2 linked regions of the Homo sapiens genome follow. The protein of the gene in region 2 interacts with the protein of the main gene of each other region in a pairwise test. Each region holds a gene or a part of one and is shown on either strand. Other genes may lie near its edges. The genes, in order: TFCP2 and RBMS1.

Region 1 (3,830 bases), on a different chromosome or scaffold from region 2:
GTTCAAGACCAGCCTGGCTAGCATGGCGAAATCCCACCTCTACCAAAAATACAAAAATTAGCCAGGCATGGTGACATGCGCCTCTAGTCCCAGCTACTGGTGAGGCTGAGGCAAGAGAATCGCTTGAACTGGGAGGCAGAGGTTGTAGTGAGCCGAGATTGCACCACTCCACTCCAGATTGGGAGACAAAGCCTAGACACTGTCCCCCCCCAAAAAAATTATGCCAATCTAACTGCCAAATAATTGTTATGTAAATTATGGTACAACCAAGAAATGAAATATTATGCAGCCATTACCAAGCAATTTTGGGAGACACAAATAAATAAACTGGGGTATTAGAAGAGCAATTCAGAAACTCCTCAATGCTCTCAGGCACAGGTTAAAGAGCCTGGGCTTGACAGTCAGGCTAGAACCCTGTAAAGATTTCAAAGTTAACATGTTTTATCCTTTAAGAAATAAACTGATAGTAAGAGAGATACTCTTCAAAACTGGAACCCTATCTGCAACGCCTTACCTGAATAAACACAGATGTCCTCTTTGCAGGGTCCCACAGGAACTCCACTGTATTTAGTTGAGTTGGATTAGCCCTAGGATCGATTATACCCACAGACATCGGGATATCTGAGAAACAAAATGGTAATCATTGAACAATTTTGAGGGCCACTCAGTTTTAAATAAGAAAGCATTGATTCTTATATTACTCAATGTAGCTACCAAGATTTTTGTATATCACATCCTAAATTTCTTTGTTTTTTTTTTTTGTCGTTGTTGTTGTTTTTTATGGAGTCTTGTTCTGTTGCCCAAGCTGGAGTGCAGTGGTAACAGGCCTGGAGTGCAGTGGCACCATCTCAGCTCACTGCAACCTCTGCCTCCTGGGTTCAAACGATCCTCCTGCCTCTGCCTCCTGAGTAGCTGGGATTACAGGCCCGTGCCACCACGCCCGGCTAATTTTTTTGTATCTTTAGTAGAGATGGGGTTTCACCATGTTGGCCATGCTGCTCTCAAACTCCTGACCTCAGGTTATCCACCCACCTTGGCCTCCTAAAGTGCTGGGATTACAGGCTTGAGCCACTGTGCCCAGCCCACACCTTAAATTTCTTTTTTGTCAATGAAAATATTTGATTAGAGTAAAATTGACTTAAGTACTTTGCTTGAGCACCTTTTTTCCTCTTTAAAAAGTTTTTAAAATACGGCAATTAAAAAAATTATTTGGCCAGGCACGGTGGCTCACACCTGTAATCCCAGCACTTTGGGAGCCCAAGGCAGGCGGATCATGATGTCAGGAGTTCGAGACCAGCCTGACCAACATGACGTAACCTCATCTCTACTAAAAATACAAAAATTAGCCGGCCGTGGTGGCCCACACCTGTAATCCCAGCTACTCAGGAGGCTGAAGCAGGAGAATTGCTTGAACCTGGGAGGTGGAGGTTGCAGTGAGCCGGAGATCGAGCCACTGCACTCCAGCCTGGGTGACAAAGCAAGACTTCATCTCAAAAAAAAAAATTATTTTTAGGCCAGGCGTGGTGGCTTACACCTGTTATCCCAGCACTTTGGGAGGCCAAGGTGAGCGGATCACCTGAAGTCAAGAGTTCAAGACCAGCCTGGCCAACATGGCGAAACCCCGTCTCTACTAAAAAATACAAAAATTAGCCAGGCATGGTAGTGGGCATCTGTAATCCCAGCTACCTGAGAGGCTGAGGCAGAGAGAACTGCTTGAACCAGGGAGGCGGAGGTTGCAGTGAGCCAGTATTGCGCCACTGTGCTCCAGCCTGGGTGACAGAGCAAGACTGTCTCGAAAAACAAAAAAATCATTTTTAAATTGAGAAATAATAATTGTACATATTCATGGGCTATATAGTGATGTTTCAATACATATAATGCATAGTGATCAGATCAGGGTAATCAGCATATTCATTGTCTCAAACATCTGTCATTTCTTTGTGTTGGGAATGTTTAGTATCCTCCTTCTAGCTTAAAATATGGCAATTTAAAGGCAGTTTCCTTTTAATTTGTTAAAATCCTATTTAAGGTGGATTAAGTCTACACTATCATGAAAACTGTAATTTATAATCTATTTCAACTACAGTTTGAAAATTAGTTTCATTGCCAAAAGCACATTAAGAGTATTGCTATTGAAGGGGTGCAGCAGAGTGTCTATATGAAGGTAGAAAGCATTATATCATGAATGAAAGTGGGAAAATTTTAACATAAAGATTGATGCAGGCCAAGCGTGGTGGCTCACGCCTGCAATCCCAGTACTTTGGGAGGCCAAGGCGGGTGGATCATTTGAGGTCAGGAGTTCGAGACCAGCCTGGCCAACATGGTGAAAACTTGTCTCTACTACAAATATAAAAATTAGCTGGGCGTGGTTGTGGATGCCTATAATCCCAGCTACTCAGGAGTCTGAGGCATGAGAATGGCTTGAACCCGGGAGACAGAGGTTGCAGTGAGCCGAGATCATGCCATTGTACTCCAGCCTGGATGACAGAGCAAGACTCTGTCTCAAAAAAAAAAAAAAAAAGATGGTTGATGCTGACTTACCAAGTCATCAAATAATCCTATAACAGAGTGACAAATCTTTACTTAAAAGGGAAGCAAGAATTAATGGGTTTGAGTAGAACTTTTCTTTCCATTCCACACAGCAGATATTCAAATAGCATTCCCTGATTTCTCCTATTAATGATCAAACTGGGGAGTTAAGGCCAGGTAATATGTATTATCAGAACTGTGGTATTAACTATACTACTGTTTTGGTATCAATGATTCAAACAATAGAGCATCAAGTGGGTCCCACTCCACAATATTAGTTGTGTTAGATTCATCTTAAGGTCAACTTATCATACAGATATCAGGATCACTGCATGAGAACCAATGTTTTCTCAGGTAAAATTAGTAGCAGTTAAATTTTTCTTAACAACTATGTTTACCAAAAGGAAATTTTAACCAATTAGAAATCAGAGAGGCAGACACCATGAAAAGTGACTGCATGTGTATTTGTGAAGATCTTTCCTTTATACCCTATGACTTAGGAAAAACAAATTCTACTCTGTGTAGCAACGTGGGAAGACACAACTTAACTGCAAACCAAGTGACATAGCTTCTAATACCAGAACTCCCACTTTATAGTGCCTGGTTCTCAGGCACTAGTAAAATGAAGGAACTTTCAGCATGCTGGGGAAAAAAGTCTGCCCCTCTTTACAAACGCAAAACAAAATATCAGATCCTGAGCAGCCAAAACAATCGTGAAATAGAACAAAGTTGGAGTTCTCATGCTTCACGACTTCCAAACTGACTATAAAGCTACACTTAGCAAAATAGTGAGGTATAGGCATAAAGACAGACATTTAAACAAATGGAATAGAATAGACAGCCTACAAATAAGTATTCAAATATATGGTCAAATGAGTTTTGACAAGGGTGCAAGACCATTCAGTGGGGGAAAGAACAGTCTTTTCAACAAACGGTGTGGAGAAAACTGGGTATCCACATGCAAAAGAATGAAGTTGGGCCCTTCTTTCTGTATATGGTTTACCATACAACCTTTTTTGTATATGGTTGTACCATATACAAACACGAACTCAAAATGGACCTGTGACCTGAATATAAGACCTAAAACTATAAAACTCTTAGGAGAAAACATATGGGAAAAGCTTCTTGGCACTGAATTTGGCAATGATTTCTTGGATGTGGCACCAAAAGCACAGGGAATTAAAAAAAATTAGATAAATTGGACCACCTCAATGTAAAACTTTAGTGCATCAAAGGATAGTATCAACACAGTAAAAAAGCAACCCACACAATAACAGAAAAGATTTGCATGTGATATATCT
Region 2 (3,830 bases):
AGATTTTTCTGAGTTCTATTTAATTTACCCATTTCTGAAACTACTTATAGCCAGAATGGTCACTGGATGGTCTCTACCAACCTCAACAGGAACCGCTGTCGTCTGCATATGTGCATACTGTGGCAAGTAGGCTCCTTGCATAGCTGACGTTGCAGGCATGTACTAGAAAGAAGAATGAGGTCAGAATGGGCAATGGTAAACCATGCAAAATTTGGAGTACGTGGGGGGATTGTGAGATGGATATAATGTATTTGGAAATCTCAAAGAAGAAATTTAAATGGGCTACACCTCAAAGCTTAAATAGTGCATATAAATATGTCATATGGAAGGTAAACTGTTTTCTACTTTTTGAATCTGCTAAACTAAAAATTCCACATTTCTTTGGATTTGCTAACAAAGTGAAGATAAAAAAAGTTTATTATGGGTGAAGATAAAAAAGTTTGTCACTCTCAATAATTCAGTATCACTAATGTGTGATTTTAGAAGATCTCTCCTCAAAGGACCTCATTATTTTCTAGCAGCCCCCTAAACTAGTACCTAGTATTGTTTCTACAGGTAGAGCCCACAGGGGTAAGACTTATTAGACCTCTAACAGGTCACTGCAGATTAGGCAGCAGAGCCTGGCTTTTCTGACACTGACAGTCATCCTTTCCCAAAGGCAGGAGAAATTTCTAGTCAGTCTCATTGGATATGTGTGGCCCTGGCTTAGCCTTCACAAGAAACAGCTGTAGGTTTTGAGTGTATAAGGGGAAAACGCACCACCCTTTGTTCTTTTAAGCCACTATAGAATAGAGGCTAAATTAAAATCCTTTAGCCATCTTACCAGCAAAATGCTAAGCATCAAATCTGGAAGCTGATCTGGTGCCAGCTCAACCTCATTACCCAAAGGAGTCCCCTGGACTTTGGTGAAATATTTCAATATTAAGACCATGATTCAATACTCCCAAACTCCATAAAAGAAGAAATAAGCGAGAAATAATTCCCTGCTTTTACCATCTTGTATTACCTTCGTCTTTCGCTTCATGACACTGCCACAGGGACAGTGGTACTAGTTATATAGATGACACTAGTCATAAAAGGCTAGATGTGGTCACGTGTGGGTGCTATATTCTCGTAAAGGAGAGATACCCAGAGAATAGACTTTCAGTTCATCAATTAATTAAGAAATAGCTGAGTATTTACTTTATGGAAGGTCATGTGGGGGGAAGAGAGGGGATTAGACATAATCTGTTATCATAGAGGCTGTCATTTGATAGGGAAGATACAGGCTGCATTAATTTACCCTCCTCTGTTTACAGAGACACATGATAATTATTTGCCACCTACTGTTCCGGTGCTGCCTAGTGACAGATGACTCATCTGCTGGGCCAGAGGGCTGATCATTGATGCGGGCTGTAGTGACATGGTGTGCTCCATTGAGGGAGTTAACACGGCACCCTGGGGAGTTGGAGACAGGAGCAAAATTAGACAAACTGAGGCAAGAGTTAAGATCCTGTAATTACTTTTTACAAAGGAAATACCTTAGTTTGTTTAAGAATGTGAAGCAAAAACAACCTTCCTCAATCTTGCAAATGGCATCATAAACAGTTTCCTAAAAATCTTCTAAATTGCTCTTCCTGAGAGTTTTTTAAGAGCGTTAGGGGAAATGATATCTTGGCATTCACTTCACAACAATCCCTGTATTAAAGCCAGTGTCCCTCTTCTCCTTCCCTTTCCCTTCACTTCCAGTAACTGGAAGCAAGCTAGTCCAGCAGGAGGAGCTATCATAGGAAAAACAAACTGATTATCACTGCCTGCCTAGGGTTACAAAACGCTTTCTTAAAAAAAAATCTGGAAAAAAAAGGCAGTTGATGTTTTCTCCAGTCACCAAACAATGTATTATATTTAATAAGATCAATATAGTATTTTGTTTAACAATGTTCTATCCAGATAATCGTCTGGTTCAAGATCAGGTTGTTAGGATCAAGAGCACATTTCTTCATTCACTCAGTGTTTCTCAGAACTTTAAGTTACATTTTGGTGCCTGGGAGGGAAGGCAATTCAGATATGATTAATAATCTGAGTCCAGATTCTTTTATTTAATTTGAAAAAATGTTAGTCATTAAAATCAAATTAAATATATTTAGGAAAATAGGAGGGAAAAAAAAAACAATTGCTTCTAACTCAGCCAGTCTAATACAACCACTGTTAGCAATGTCAGGGTACTACTGCCAGATCATAGCCTCTGTGTGTTTCTGTACAGGTTCAATCAGAGCACATCAACAACTTCATATCCTGGGATTTTGCTCTTAACTTTGCATTCTATTCTAACCATTTACCTAGCTTGTTGAAAAACTATCATTATCATCATTTTTTTAAATGGTTACATTGATTGTATAAACCAAAATTCAATGAACTCTTTATTTTTGGACTTTTGCAATCACCTCATTATCTGAGAATGCAAGTATTCTGACACGCTCTGTAACTACTAATGTATGTTTTGTTATCACTGTACCTGGCATCCCTTAAATACAACTGTTATTTATTGATAATTAGATAGACAATCTAGGACAGAGTTAGGTGTACAGGAACTTTAATTCTGATGTAAATCAGGCAGTTTAAAGCTGGGTGGGGAAAGGTAATGAATCCTCAGATAGCAACCTTCTGCTTACATTCCTAATGTCTCCTCAAAGATGTTAAGCTCAGATACGTGCAGTCTTTTTCTCAAATGTTGCCAAAAAGAAAAAAAGATATAGATGTGTGTCAGAGATAATGTTTGTCATTAATACATTCTGTTAGAAATTTTTTTTTTAACATGCATCATCAAAAAGCAAGTGGTAACACGGAAATGACTCAGAAGCCTAGAAGATGGTGGAGCAGTTTCCTGCTCCTTTTTCTCATTCATTGGCACCATCTGTAATAGGAAGTCCTCAAATTCAAAGCAAGCTGATTTCCAAGCATTCCAAAATAGGGTAGCATGGAGTATCAGGGACACAGATTGCTATGGGCATGTGTGGATCAGTGCATGTATATTATGTACACATGTACAGGTAAGTGTGGGTTTGAAGATGTGTCTATGTATGTGCACATGTATAGATCTATATGTATGTGTATATATCACACAAAACGTATACATATATCAGAGCGCGCCTCTCCTATTTCATCACCTAAACATGTTTTATCTGCTTCTTAAAGGTCATCTCAGCAATTTCTCATTCAGAACCTGTTATCCCTGGATTGCTATTTCATATACATGGTCTTACATCGCAGTATCCACTTTAAAAGGTATCCGAAGACAAATTGCTGTCTGAACATAAGGCCAAGAATACAGTTCTTTTTCTAAGCAACCAAATCTGTTTTTATTTTACACATATTGTGAACTGTATTGCTTACCAGGATTCCCATTTTGCATCAGTTACTAGAAAGCTTAGAGCCAAATTTGTGATTTTCTCATGTGAGCATGCAGGGTCATTGTGTTGGACATCCTTAGCCTTATTGTAACTTTGTTCTCCATATGTATTTTTAAATTTTCAAACCCTTCTTCCACAAACTAGATCTTATGTGTCTTTGAAAAACACATGAAATACACTATATAATAAGTATAACTCATTCAATTTAAAAAAATGTAATATATATGAATGCTCACGTCATTAAGAAATCACATTTGTTATTTACCAAATAATGTGCTACCACTTTAGTATTTATAATCTCCATAGAAAGGCCAAGTAACACTGATGAAAATCTTCATCTCGGTTTTGAACTTTATATCTGCATTAAACAGAATGTAAAAAATGAGAGCGGTTTTATCCCAAGTACTATTAAAAATGTAGCCTCTCATTTGAATGATCTCT

The links.
Region 1: the proteins of RBMS1 (region 2) and TFCP2 interact in binary tests that used the Homo sapiens proteins (3 or more experiments, as listed by UniProt).

The regions. Positions count from the first base shown.
Region 1 is NC_000012.12:51,110,363-51,114,192, forward strand, and holds part of TFCP2 (alpha-globin transcription factor CP2), read right to left. Parts: intron 622-3,830; coding exon 515-621; intron 1-514.
Region 2 is NC_000002.12:160,277,222-160,281,051, forward strand, and holds part of RBMS1 (RNA-binding motif, single-stranded-interacting protein 1), read right to left. Parts: intron 1,438-3,830; coding exon 1,327-1,437; intron 163-1,326; coding exon 82-162; intron 1-81.